3 linked regions of the Homo sapiens genome follow. The protein of the gene in region 1 purifies or fractionates together with the protein of each later gene. This does not show direct contact. Each region holds a gene or a part of one and is shown in the gene's direction. Other genes may lie near its edges.

What was found.
Region 2: the proteins of SUGCT (region 1) and ALDH1L1 purify together in Homo sapiens (co-immunoprecipitation; one large-scale study listed by IntAct). This does not show direct contact.
Region 3: the proteins of SUGCT (region 1) and MRPL1 purify together in Homo sapiens (affinity purification with mass spectrometry; one large-scale study listed by BioGRID and IntAct). This does not show direct contact.

What each region holds. Positions count from the first base shown.
Region 1 is NC_000007.14:40,137,967-40,141,621, forward strand, and holds part of SUGCT (succinyl-CoA:glutarate CoA-transferase), read left to right. Parts: intron 1-3,655. UniProt on the Homo sapiens protein: Coenzyme A (CoA) transferase that reversibly catalyzes the transfer of a CoA moiety from a dicarboxyl-CoA to a dicarboxylate in a metabolite recycling process.
Region 2 is NC_000003.12:126,170,466-126,174,120, reverse strand, and holds part of ALDH1L1 (cytosolic 10-formyltetrahydrofolate dehydrogenase), read left to right. Parts: intron 1-3,655. UniProt on the Homo sapiens protein: Cytosolic 10-formyltetrahydrofolate dehydrogenase that catalyzes the NADP(+)-dependent conversion of 10-formyltetrahydrofolate to tetrahydrofolate and carbon dioxide.
Region 3 is NC_000004.12:77,897,190-77,900,844, forward strand, and holds part of MRPL1 (large ribosomal subunit protein uL1m precursor), read left to right. Parts: intron 1-3,655.

The sequences.
Region 1 (3,655 bases):
CCCCCTGTGCCCCAGCCAGTTATGATTTTGTTTTGGCATATATTCATGGGGGTACAAGTGCAGTTTTGCTACATTGATATATTGTATTGGGGTGAAGTCAGGGCCTTCAGTGCATCCATCACTGGCACAAGACACATTGTACCCAGCAAGCAACCTCCTGTAGTCCATCCCCTTCCCTCTACATCCCCAACCCTCCAAGTCTCCATTGCCCATCACTCCACACTCTGCTTCCATATGTACGCATTATTTACCACCAACTTATAAGGGAGAACAGGCAATATTTGTTTTTCTGTGCCTGAGTGATTTCACTTAAGATAATGGCCCCCAGTTCTATCCATGTTGCTGCAAAAGACATAATTTCATTCTTTTTTATGGCTGAATAGTATTCCATTTTGTATATATGCCATATTTTGTTTATTTAGTGCTCCATTGATGGGCACTTAGGTTGATTTCATATCTTTGCTTTTATGAATAGTGCCGTGATAAACATATGAGTGCAGGTGTCTTTTTGATGTAATGATTTCTTTTCCTTTGGGTAGATGCACAGTAGTGGGATTGCTGCATCTTCCGGTAGTTCTATTTTTAGTTCTGTGAGAAATCTCCATACTGTTTTCCATAGAAGGTGCACTGATTTACATTCCCACCAACAGTGTATAAGAAGAGTTCCCTTTTCTCAGCTTCCTCACCAACATCCTGTGATTTTTTTTGTCTTTTTAATAGCCATTCTGTTGTGTGTAAGATGATATCTCATTGTGGTTTTTAATTTGTATTTCTCTGATGATTGGTGATGTTGAACATTTTTTAAAAATTTTACTCATGGCAGTACACAGAAATTTTCAGGGAAGATTAAAAGGCATGAAAACATGACTCTTAATAGACAATTCTAGCAATATACAAACTATTTTTGTTTCCCTAGAGTCTTGAATTTTTTGTTCAACTCATTTTCTGGTTATGAATTTAAAATGATTACAGCATACTGCCAATGTTTGAGAAGAAATCTGTTATTGGATTAAGTTTAGGAATCAGGCTGGGCGTGGTGGCTTATGCCTGTAATCCTACCACTTTGGGAGGCTGAAGTGGGTGGATCACCTGAGGTCAGGAGTGAGCCGAGATTGCCCATTGTACTCCAGCCTGGGCGACAACAGCAAAACTCTGGCTCAAAAATAAATAAATAAATAAATAAATAAATAAATAAATAAATAAATAAATAAATCCAGGATTCATAATATTAATTAATTTATTTAATTTTGTGACAAAGTCTTGTTCTGTCACCCAGGCTGGAGTTCGATGGCAAGATCTCAGCTCACTGCAACCTCCACCTCCTGGGTTCAAGGATTGTTCTGCATCAGCCTCCACAGTAGCTGGGACTACAGGTGTGTGCCACCACGCCTGGCTAATTTTTGTATTTTTAGCAGAGACGGGGGTTTCACCATGTTGGCCAGGCTTGTCTCAAACTCCGGACCTCAGCTGATCCACTCACCTCAGCCTTCCAAAGTGCTGGGATTACAGGCGTGAGCCACTGTGCCCGGCTGATGGTGAACATTTTTGATATGCTTGTTTGTCTTTTGAAAAATGCCTACTCATGTCCTTAGCCCATTTGTTAATGGGATTATTTGTTTTTTGTTGTTGAGTTGTTTGAGTTGCTTACAAATTCTGGATATTAGTCCCCTGTTGGATATGTAGTTTGCAGATATTTTCTTCCATTCCTCAGGTTATCCGTTCACTCTGTTGATCATTTCTTTTGCTATGCAGAAGCTTTTTAGTTTAATGAAGTTCCATTTGCCTATTTTTGTTTTTGTTGCCCGTGCTTTTGAGGTCTCAGTCATGAATTCTTTGCCTAGATCAATGTCTAGAAGAGTTTCCCCTAGGTTTTCTTCAGTATTTTTAGAGTTTCATCCTTACATTCAAGTCTTTAATCCATCTTGAATTTATTTTTTTCTTTCTTTTTTTTTTAAGATGGAGTTTCGCTTTTGTTGTCCAGGCTGGAGTGCAATGGCGCGATCTCGGCTCACTGCAGCCTCCGCCTCCTGGGTTCAAGCGATTCTCCTACCTTATCCTCCCAAGTAGCTGGGATTACAGGCATGCGCCACCATGCCCCGCGAATTTTTTGTGTGTTTAGTAGAGACAGGGTTTCTCCATGTTGGTCAGGCTGGCCTCAAACTCTCGACCTCAGTTGATCCGCCCGCCTAGGCCTCCCAAAGTGCTGGGATTATAGGTGTGAGCCACCGTGTCTGGCCAAATTGATTTTTTTATATGGTGAGATACAGGGATCCAGTTTCATTCTTCTGCATATGGCAATCCAATTTTCCCAGCACCTTTTACTGAAAAGGGTATCCTTTCCCCAGTAAATGTTGTCGACTTTGTCAAAAATCAGTTGGCTTTAAGCATGTGGGTTTATTTCTGGGTTATGTATGCTGTTCCATGGATCTATGTGTCTATTTATTTATTTATTGAGGTAGAGTCTTGCTCTGTTGCCCAGGCTGGAGTGCAGTTGTGCAATCTCAGTTCATTGCAACCTCCGCCCCCCGGGTTCAAGCGATTGTCCTGCCTCAGACTCCTGAGTAGCTAGGATTACAGGCGCACGCCACCACACCTGGCTAATTTTTGTATTTTTAGTAGAGACGGAGTTTCACCATGTTGGTAAAGCTGGTCTTGAACTCCTGACCTCATGATCCGCCTGTCTTGGCCTCCCAAAGTGCTGGGATTACAGGCATGAGGCACCGCACCTGGCCCTATGTGTCTGTTTTTATAGACACTATGAGTATTATGCTGTTTTGGCTACTATAGCCTTGTAGTATATTTTGAAGTCAGAAAATGTGATAACACCAGCTTTGTTCTTTTTACTTGGGATATTTTTGGCTATTCGGGCTCATTTTTAGTTCCATATGAACTTTAGAATTGTTTTTTCTAATTCTGTGAAAAAATGATGTTGATAGAAATTGCATTGAACCTGCAGATTGCTTTGGGCACAATGGTCATTTTAACCACATTAATTCTTTCAGCCTACGTGCATGGGGTGTTTTTCCATTTTTTTGTTTCATCTATAGTTTCTTTCATCAGTGTTTTGTAGTTTTCCTTGTAGATTTCTTTCACCTTCTTGGTTAAATATATTCCTAGGTGTTTTATTTTTTTGTAGCTATCATAAATGGGACTGCCTTCTTGGTTTCGTCCTCGGGTAGAACATTATTGGTGAACAGAAATCCTAGTGATTTCTTTTCCTTTTTTTTTTTTGAGACAGTCTTGCTCTACTACCCATGCTGGAGTACAATGGTGCAATGTAGGCTCACTGCAAAGGCCTCCCAAAGTGCTGGGATTACAGGCATGAGCCACTGTGCCCATCTGATTTATAAATTTTTGACAGATTATGCATGAGAGTGTGCTTCTTGGGCCAGGCGCGGTGGCTCATGGTTGTACTCCCAGCACTTTGGGAGGCTGAGGCAGATGGATCACAAGGTTAGGAGTTCGAGACCAGCCTGGCCAACATAGTGAAACCCCGTCTCTAGTAAAAATACAAAAAAATAGTCAGGCGTGGTGGTGGGCACCTGTAATCCCAGCTACTTGGGAGGCTGAGGCAGGAGAATTGCTTGAACCCAGGAGTGGGAGGCTGCAGTGAGCTGAGATTGTGCCATTGCACTCTAGCCTGGGCGACAGACAG
Region 2 (3,655 bases), on another chromosome or scaffold:
GTTGCAGTGAGCCGAGATCGTGCCACTGCACTCCAGCCTGGGCAACAAGAGTGAAACTCCGCCCCCCCAAAAAAAACGTTAGTGGGGACTGACAGAGAGGTGTTGATGTCTCCAACTGTAATAATAGTGGATTCATCTATTTCTCCTTAAAATTCTGTCAGTTTTTGCTTTACACATTTTAGCACTGTTGTTAGGCACATACATATTAAGGAGTATTATGTCTGCTGGGATAATTGACTCCTTTACCATTATGTAGTGCTTCTCTTTATTCCTAATAATTTTCCTTTCTCTGAAGTCTGCTTTATCTGAAGTTAATAGAACTACTCCATATTTCTTTTGATTAGTGGTAGCACGGTATATCTTTCTCCATCCCTTTATTTGTAACCTATCTGGTTTTTATGTTGAAATGGGTTTGTTGTAGACAACATATAGTTAGGTCACGATTCTTTATTCACTCTAGATAGTCACATGTTTTAATTGGTATATTTACACCATTGATATTTGAAGTGATTTTTTGATATAGTTGGATTAATATTTACCATATTTATTACTGTTTTCTATTTGCCCTTTGTTTCTTTTTTCTTCCACACTTTTTTCTGCCTTTTCTGATCTTAACTGAGCATTTTATATGATTCCATTTTCTTTTCTCTCTTAGCATATCAGTTTTACTTTTTTGTTGTTGCTTTTTTAGTGGTTGACCTACAGTTTGCAATATACACTTAAATCTAATTTAAGTCTGCTTTTGAATAACACTATACAACTTTATGGGTAGTGTAAGGGCCTTATTGCAGAGTATTCTTGATTCCTCCCTCCCATGCCTTATTATTACTGCTATCATTCATTTCACTTATCCATAAGCTACAATCACTGAATACATTGTTGCAATTATTATTTTGAACAAATTGTTATCTCTCAGATTAAGAATAAGAAAAAAAATTATTTCACATTTATTTCTAATACTCTTTTGTATGTTGAGTTTCTGACTTGTTTAATTTTCCTTTTTTTCTGAATTACTTCTTTTAACATATCTTGTAAGGCAGTTTACTGGTGACAAATTCCTTCAATTTTTGTTTGAGAAGTCTTTCTCCTCCACTTTTGAAGGACAATTTTACTGCATACAGATGGAATCTAGTTAGTTCTAAGTTGATGGAATGTTTTCAGTTCTTTAAATAATTCTTTCTATTCTATTCCTGATTGCATGGTTTATGAAGAGACGTTTGATGTAATCCTCATCTCTCTCCCTCTATAGGTAAGGTGTCCTGCCCTGCCTCTCCCTGGCTTCACTGAAGATTATCTCTGTGTCTTTTATTTTTTGCAGTTTGAATATGATATGCCTAAGTATAGATTTTTTGGGGGGTGGGGGGTGATCTTTATCCTATTTGGTTTCCTCTGAGCTGCTTGGATCTTGGTTTGGTATCTGTCTTTAATTTTGGAAAATTATCAGTCATTATCACTTCAAACATTTTTACTATTCCTTTCTTTCTTTTTATTCCATCTGATATCCCTATTACAAGGATTTACACCTATGGCAATTGTCCCACCATTCTTGGATATTCTGTTTTGTCTTTTTTATTCTATATTTCCCTTTGCATTTCAGTTTGGGAAGTGTTTGTTGATATTTCATCCATCTCATTGATTATTTCCTCAACTGTATCCAGTCTATTGATAAACCTATTAAAGACATTCTTTGCATTTATCACAGGGTTTTTATTTCTAGACTTTTTTTGATTTTTTTCTTAATTTCCATCTCTCTGCTTACATGACCAATTTGTTCTTATATGTTCTCCACATTTTTCCATTAGAGCTCTTAGCATTTTAATTATCATTGTTTTAAATTTTCCATCTGAAAATTCCAACATTGCTTCCATATCTGATTGTGGTTTAGGTGCTTGTTTCATCTTTGCAAACTGTGTTTTTGTCTTTTATATATCTTGTAATTGTTTTGCAGAAAATCAGATATAATGTATTGGGTAAAAGGTACTGAGGTAGATAGGCTTTTAGTGTGAGGTTTGATATTTACCTGTCTAGGAGTTAGAATGTGTTTACTATTTGCTATAGCTGTGGGTATCAGAGGATATAATTTTCTCTCTTCATCTTCTTGTTTTTGTCTACCCTGTTGTCTTTGGGTTTTTGTAGAAACTCCTTAAATAGGCTCTGGCTTGCAGTTCTCTTATCCGTAATCCCCTTGTTACTATACTGGAGCCCTGTGGATGTAGTAGCAAGGTGTTTTGGTGGGGGGAAGTGTTTTACAGTCCTACAATTAGGTCTTAGTGTTTCAGTGAGCCTGCACCCCTGGGCTGTGACCTTCACAAGTGTTTCTCAGTCCTACCCCTTTTAGGTGATGAGAAAGGCTAGAGGGGCTGGATTTGGGTTTTTCCTCATCACTTAGGTTAGTTAGGCCCTGGGTGTCCATTCACTTAGGCTCTGGTATAATAGTTTCTATGAGGGTAGATATGTTGAGAAAAAAATGACTGCTTTCCTTGCCTCCTGCCAAAACCAGAAGGGGATTTTTCTCCAATCCTTACTGTGAGAACTGTAAGAATTAAAGAAAGAGGAAAGAAATACAAAAGCTGGCTTGCCAGTTAAGACATTTATTTTAGAGAAAATCAACCTGAAAGGAGCCTTCTGGCCAAGTTAGGTCAGAGGCACACTCTCTTACAGACTGAGTTTTTAAGGATTCAGGATGGGAGAGTTTATCAGAGGCTTGGACTGCTTCTGTGTCTCTTTGTTGTGCTTATCTGGGAGGGAGAGTTGTGTGCCTGTTTTCATACATTTTTCCTGCAGCTGCAGGTATAGTCCCTGAGTCTGTTTTTACTTATTTATTGAGACAGAGTCTCGCTCTGTCGCTAGGCCGGAGTGCAGTGGCGCCATCTCGGCTCACTGCAACCTCTGCTTCCCAGGTTCAAGCGATTTTCCTGCCTCAGCCTCCTGAGTAGATGGGACTACAGGCATGCGCCACCACGCCTGGCTAATTTTTTGTAGTTTTAGTAGAGACGGGGTTTCACCGTGTTAGCCAGGATGGTCTTGATCTCCTTACCTCGTGATCCGCCCGCCTCGGCCTCCCAAAGTGCTGGGATTACAGGCATGAGCCACCGCGCCCAGCCAAGAGTCTGCTTTTAGCTTTCCTGTCTTAGTGCCCCTGAAGGAAAGGGAATGTGCTTGTTCCTTATTATTAAGGCCCACTGTTTTACTGGGGCCCATCGTATGAGGGTGAAGTTTGGCAGTTACCCAAGATACTTTCCCCCCACCTCCCTTTGTGTCCCAGCTGTCTTATCCGTGTTTTACTGTCTGCTCTTTCTGGCTGCTTGTAGTTAGAAGAGAAGTGATTTCCTTGAAATGCATGAGGCTAGAAAGGGAGCTGGAATTTAAAGTGGCGGTGTTTGTCTGAGATGACAGTACTCCTGCTCTATCATTCCAGACCCTATGGTTATAAAAGGACAAGAGGGGACATGTTCTTTCTAGCTACTTCCTGCTGATGCGGGGGTGGAGAGTTTTTTGGTCTTAGATTGACTGTAGGATCAACACCATTTGTAGATGTTTTTGGGTAGTTGCGAAATGGCCATGATTCTGTCGGTTAAAAATTTTTGATAAAGGTTAATTAGGCAGAGTAAAAACATTAGTCCTAGGCTTTTCAGCAGCATTTTTTATTAGGCCC
Region 3 (3,655 bases), on another chromosome or scaffold:
AGTAGCTGCGATTACAGGAGCATGCCACCACACCCAGCTAGTATTTTGTATTTTTAGTAGACACATGTTGGCCAGGCTGGTCTCGAACTTCTGACCTCAGGTAATCTGCCTGCTTCAGCCTCCTAAAGTGCTTGGCCTCCCAAAGTGCTGGGATTACAGGCGTGAACCACTGTGCCCAGCCAAAAAAAAATCTTGACTTAATGGTATCAGATGTTTATTATGCATATTAACCTGTGATAGGTACTGTGGCATATATGGGAACAGTTGAATTCTTTTATACCATACTAAGTTATTGTCAGGTAAGAAAGGGACATGATTAGAAAATTAGAATTACACTAATGTGTATTCCTCTTAACTTCTAACTCTTAGAATTGAACACTAGTGCTCCACTCGATGTCTTGTCCAAACGATATCCCAGCAGACTTGTCCAAAAGATATCCACATATGAGCAGGACACTGCTTTCCGTGAGGAATTTGGTGTTGTATCATACGTGAGACTCATGGATATTAAAGTTCTTGTAATGTGTAGCATTTTTAACTCATAGAATAGTACCTTGTACTTCAGGGTTTTGTTTGCATTATTGGAACAATCAGAAGTTTTGGTTATATAAGGGAAAATAACCAAAACGGAGAATTTTTGCAAGGTAATGAATTTGAAATTTTTCTAAATTTCTGCCCCTTCACATATTAGTTTAAAAACTATCCATGTATGAAAGACTCCATTAATGATTAGGTACTGTTACAATTGTTGTAGATGAAATATGGATCTATTATAGCTGGTTCTGTTATGCTTTCCTTTGCTTCCTTTACTTCAGCCTTGGCAGCCTCCTTGATCTTCCTCATACACACTAAGCACTCTCCCTCCTCAGGTCTTTGGATTTACTGTTGCATAGGTCTGTAGTAGTACTGTTTGCTTACTTGCCTTGCTCACTTTCTCATTCGAACATCATCTAAACAGAGAGACCTTCCATGACCATCCTATATAAAATATTACTACCACTTCCTATTATCACTAAATATCATTATTATGCTTTTGTATTCATTTTAGGACATATCACTCTTAGCATCTTTTTTTTGTGTGTGTGTGTGTGATGTGTGTTCAGTGCCTCTCATTAGAGCAAAGATGGTTTTGTTTTGTCCATTGCTACATTCCCATTGCCTAGAGTATAGTACCTGGAAAATAGTACGTACTCTACAAATATTTGAATGAATGAATGAATGAATGAATGAATGAATGTTTAATCCAGCACTCATTCAGTTGGTAGAAGATATAAAATTAAACTGTAACTTAAAAATGGAGTATACAATTTTTTTTTTTTTGAGACGGAGTTTTGCTCTGTTGCCCAGGCTGGAGCGCAGTGGCACATCTCGGCTCACTGCAACCTCCCCTTCCCGGGTTCATACAATTCTCCTGCCTCAGCCTCCTGAGTAGCTGAGATTACAGGTGTGCGCCACCATGCCCAGGTAATTTTTTTTGTATTTTTAGTAGAGATGGGGTTTCACCATGTTGGCCAGGCTGGTCTCAAACTCCTGACCTCAAATGATCCACATCCCTCAGCTTCCCAAAGTGCTGGGATTACATGCGTGAGCCACCGCACCCAGCTTGGACTATATACAATTTATAGTTTTTTTTTTATCAGAATAATTGTATTTATAGTAGTTGAGTATCTACTATGTGCCAAGCCTTGGGTGTGATAGCAGTGAACAAGACAGACAAAGTTCTTGCGGTCATAGAACTAACAGTTTTGTTTTCTGCAGTAGAGAAACTAGTTTAACTTTTTACAGTTACTTATGCACAGATTTTTTTTTTTTTTTTTTTTTTGAGACAGAGTCTCGTTCTGTCACCCAGGCTGGAGTGCAGAGACATGATCTTGTCTCACTGCAACCTCTGCCTCCTGGGTTCAGGTGATTCTCTTGCCTCAGCCACCAGAATAGCTGGGACTACAGGCATGTGCTGCCACGCCTGGCTCATTTTTTTTTTTTTTTTTTGTATTTTCAGTAGAGACGGGGTTTTGCCATGTTGGCCAGGCTGGTCTTGAACTCATGAGCTCAAGTGATCTACCTGCTGCAGTCTCCCAAAGTGCTGGGATTACAGGCATGTGCAACCATGCCTGGCCATTTATGCTCAGATTTCTTTAAACAAACAAAAAGCAAATCACGAGCCCCCCCGCACCTTCATTTGATTCAACTATCCTTTCCAGCTGCGATCTTAGTTTTTTATGTGTTTTATGTTAAGTTTTTCAAATAATGGTCTTCAGCAATTGGCTTCATTTTCTTACTAAGCATTAGTATTCCTTACAGCTTTTTCTTCCATAATTTAGCTAAAATATTGCTCTCTCAGTTATCACAGGTTTTTCTTTTGCCATATTCAAAGGTCTGTTCTTAGTTTTCTCTGTTTCTTGCAACTTCTTTCAGGAGGTAATGTATGCAGTCCTAACTCACCTCTTTTCTAACTATTTCTTCTTTGTTTTCCTTGATTAAAAAAAGAAAAGAGAAGGTATTTTAGGAGGAAATACTTGATCGTATAGTATAGGTTATGTTCATTATGGAAATTGAATAGAGAATTAAAGGAAAAGAAAGTGAAAGGAAGAAAGAAAATGAAGAAAGAAGAGCCTAAAAACACAGAGAAAAGTGAAAGTGGAGAAAGAGGAAAGCAGTTAAATAGCAGTAAGGGATAGCAAAGCCCTAGAAATAGCAGTGATGATTTAACATTTGCCTGTATTGAAAAGCAGAGTAGAATAGTGGTTAGTATAGATCTCTCTTTGTCTTGTCTTTGTCAGTTACTGTGACCTTGAGCAAACTTTTTAACATTTTGTGCCTTATTTATTCATCTACAAAATGAGTTTCATTATAACATCCATCCCATACTGTTTTTGTGATAATGTATGAAGCACAAGCTGGGTACATAACATATGATGTGTGGGCCACTATGATTATCATTAGCTCCCTATCATTCCTAAAGTAGCTATTCATTCTCCACAATTACTTTAGGAGAAGCTATTCTTTTTCATGTATTTATATATCACCTTCATAACTTATTTGTTGAAAAAGCAGATAATTATTGGCATGCCTACCTATGTGCCAGCTGACTACACTTAGTACTGAGGATTGAAAAATAAACTGAAAAGACATTTTCTGTCTTTAAGAAGATAAACACTGAGGAGAGAGAGATGAGAGCAAACTGCTGCACTAAAATGCAATAAGTTTATTGGTAGAAAATGTACAAAGTATTGTAGAGGAATGAGGGACTGCTTTGTAGAATGAGATTATATAAAGAAGACTGCAGTTGAGAGGTTAAGCATGAATAGGCATTTGCTTTCCTTACATGAATCAGGCAGAGGAAATGGCCATTTTACATATACAAAAGTATGAGAGAGCCAGTAGTGTTCAAGAAATTATAAGCAGCTTTCTATCATTTGGTATATAAAATGTTATCAGATACTGGTGGTCAATGGGATTGGACAGTGATAGACAGTGGGCTAGGTCACAGCAGGCTTTGTGTGCTATACCATGGAGATTAGATTTTATCCTCTTTGCAAATAGGAGCCATTGAAAACTTTAGCTCAGAAGAATGATGTAAGATTTGCTTATCAGAATGAGTATTGTGAGAACTGTATAAGTGGTAGGGTAGCCATATGAGGATGGTGAAACTTTA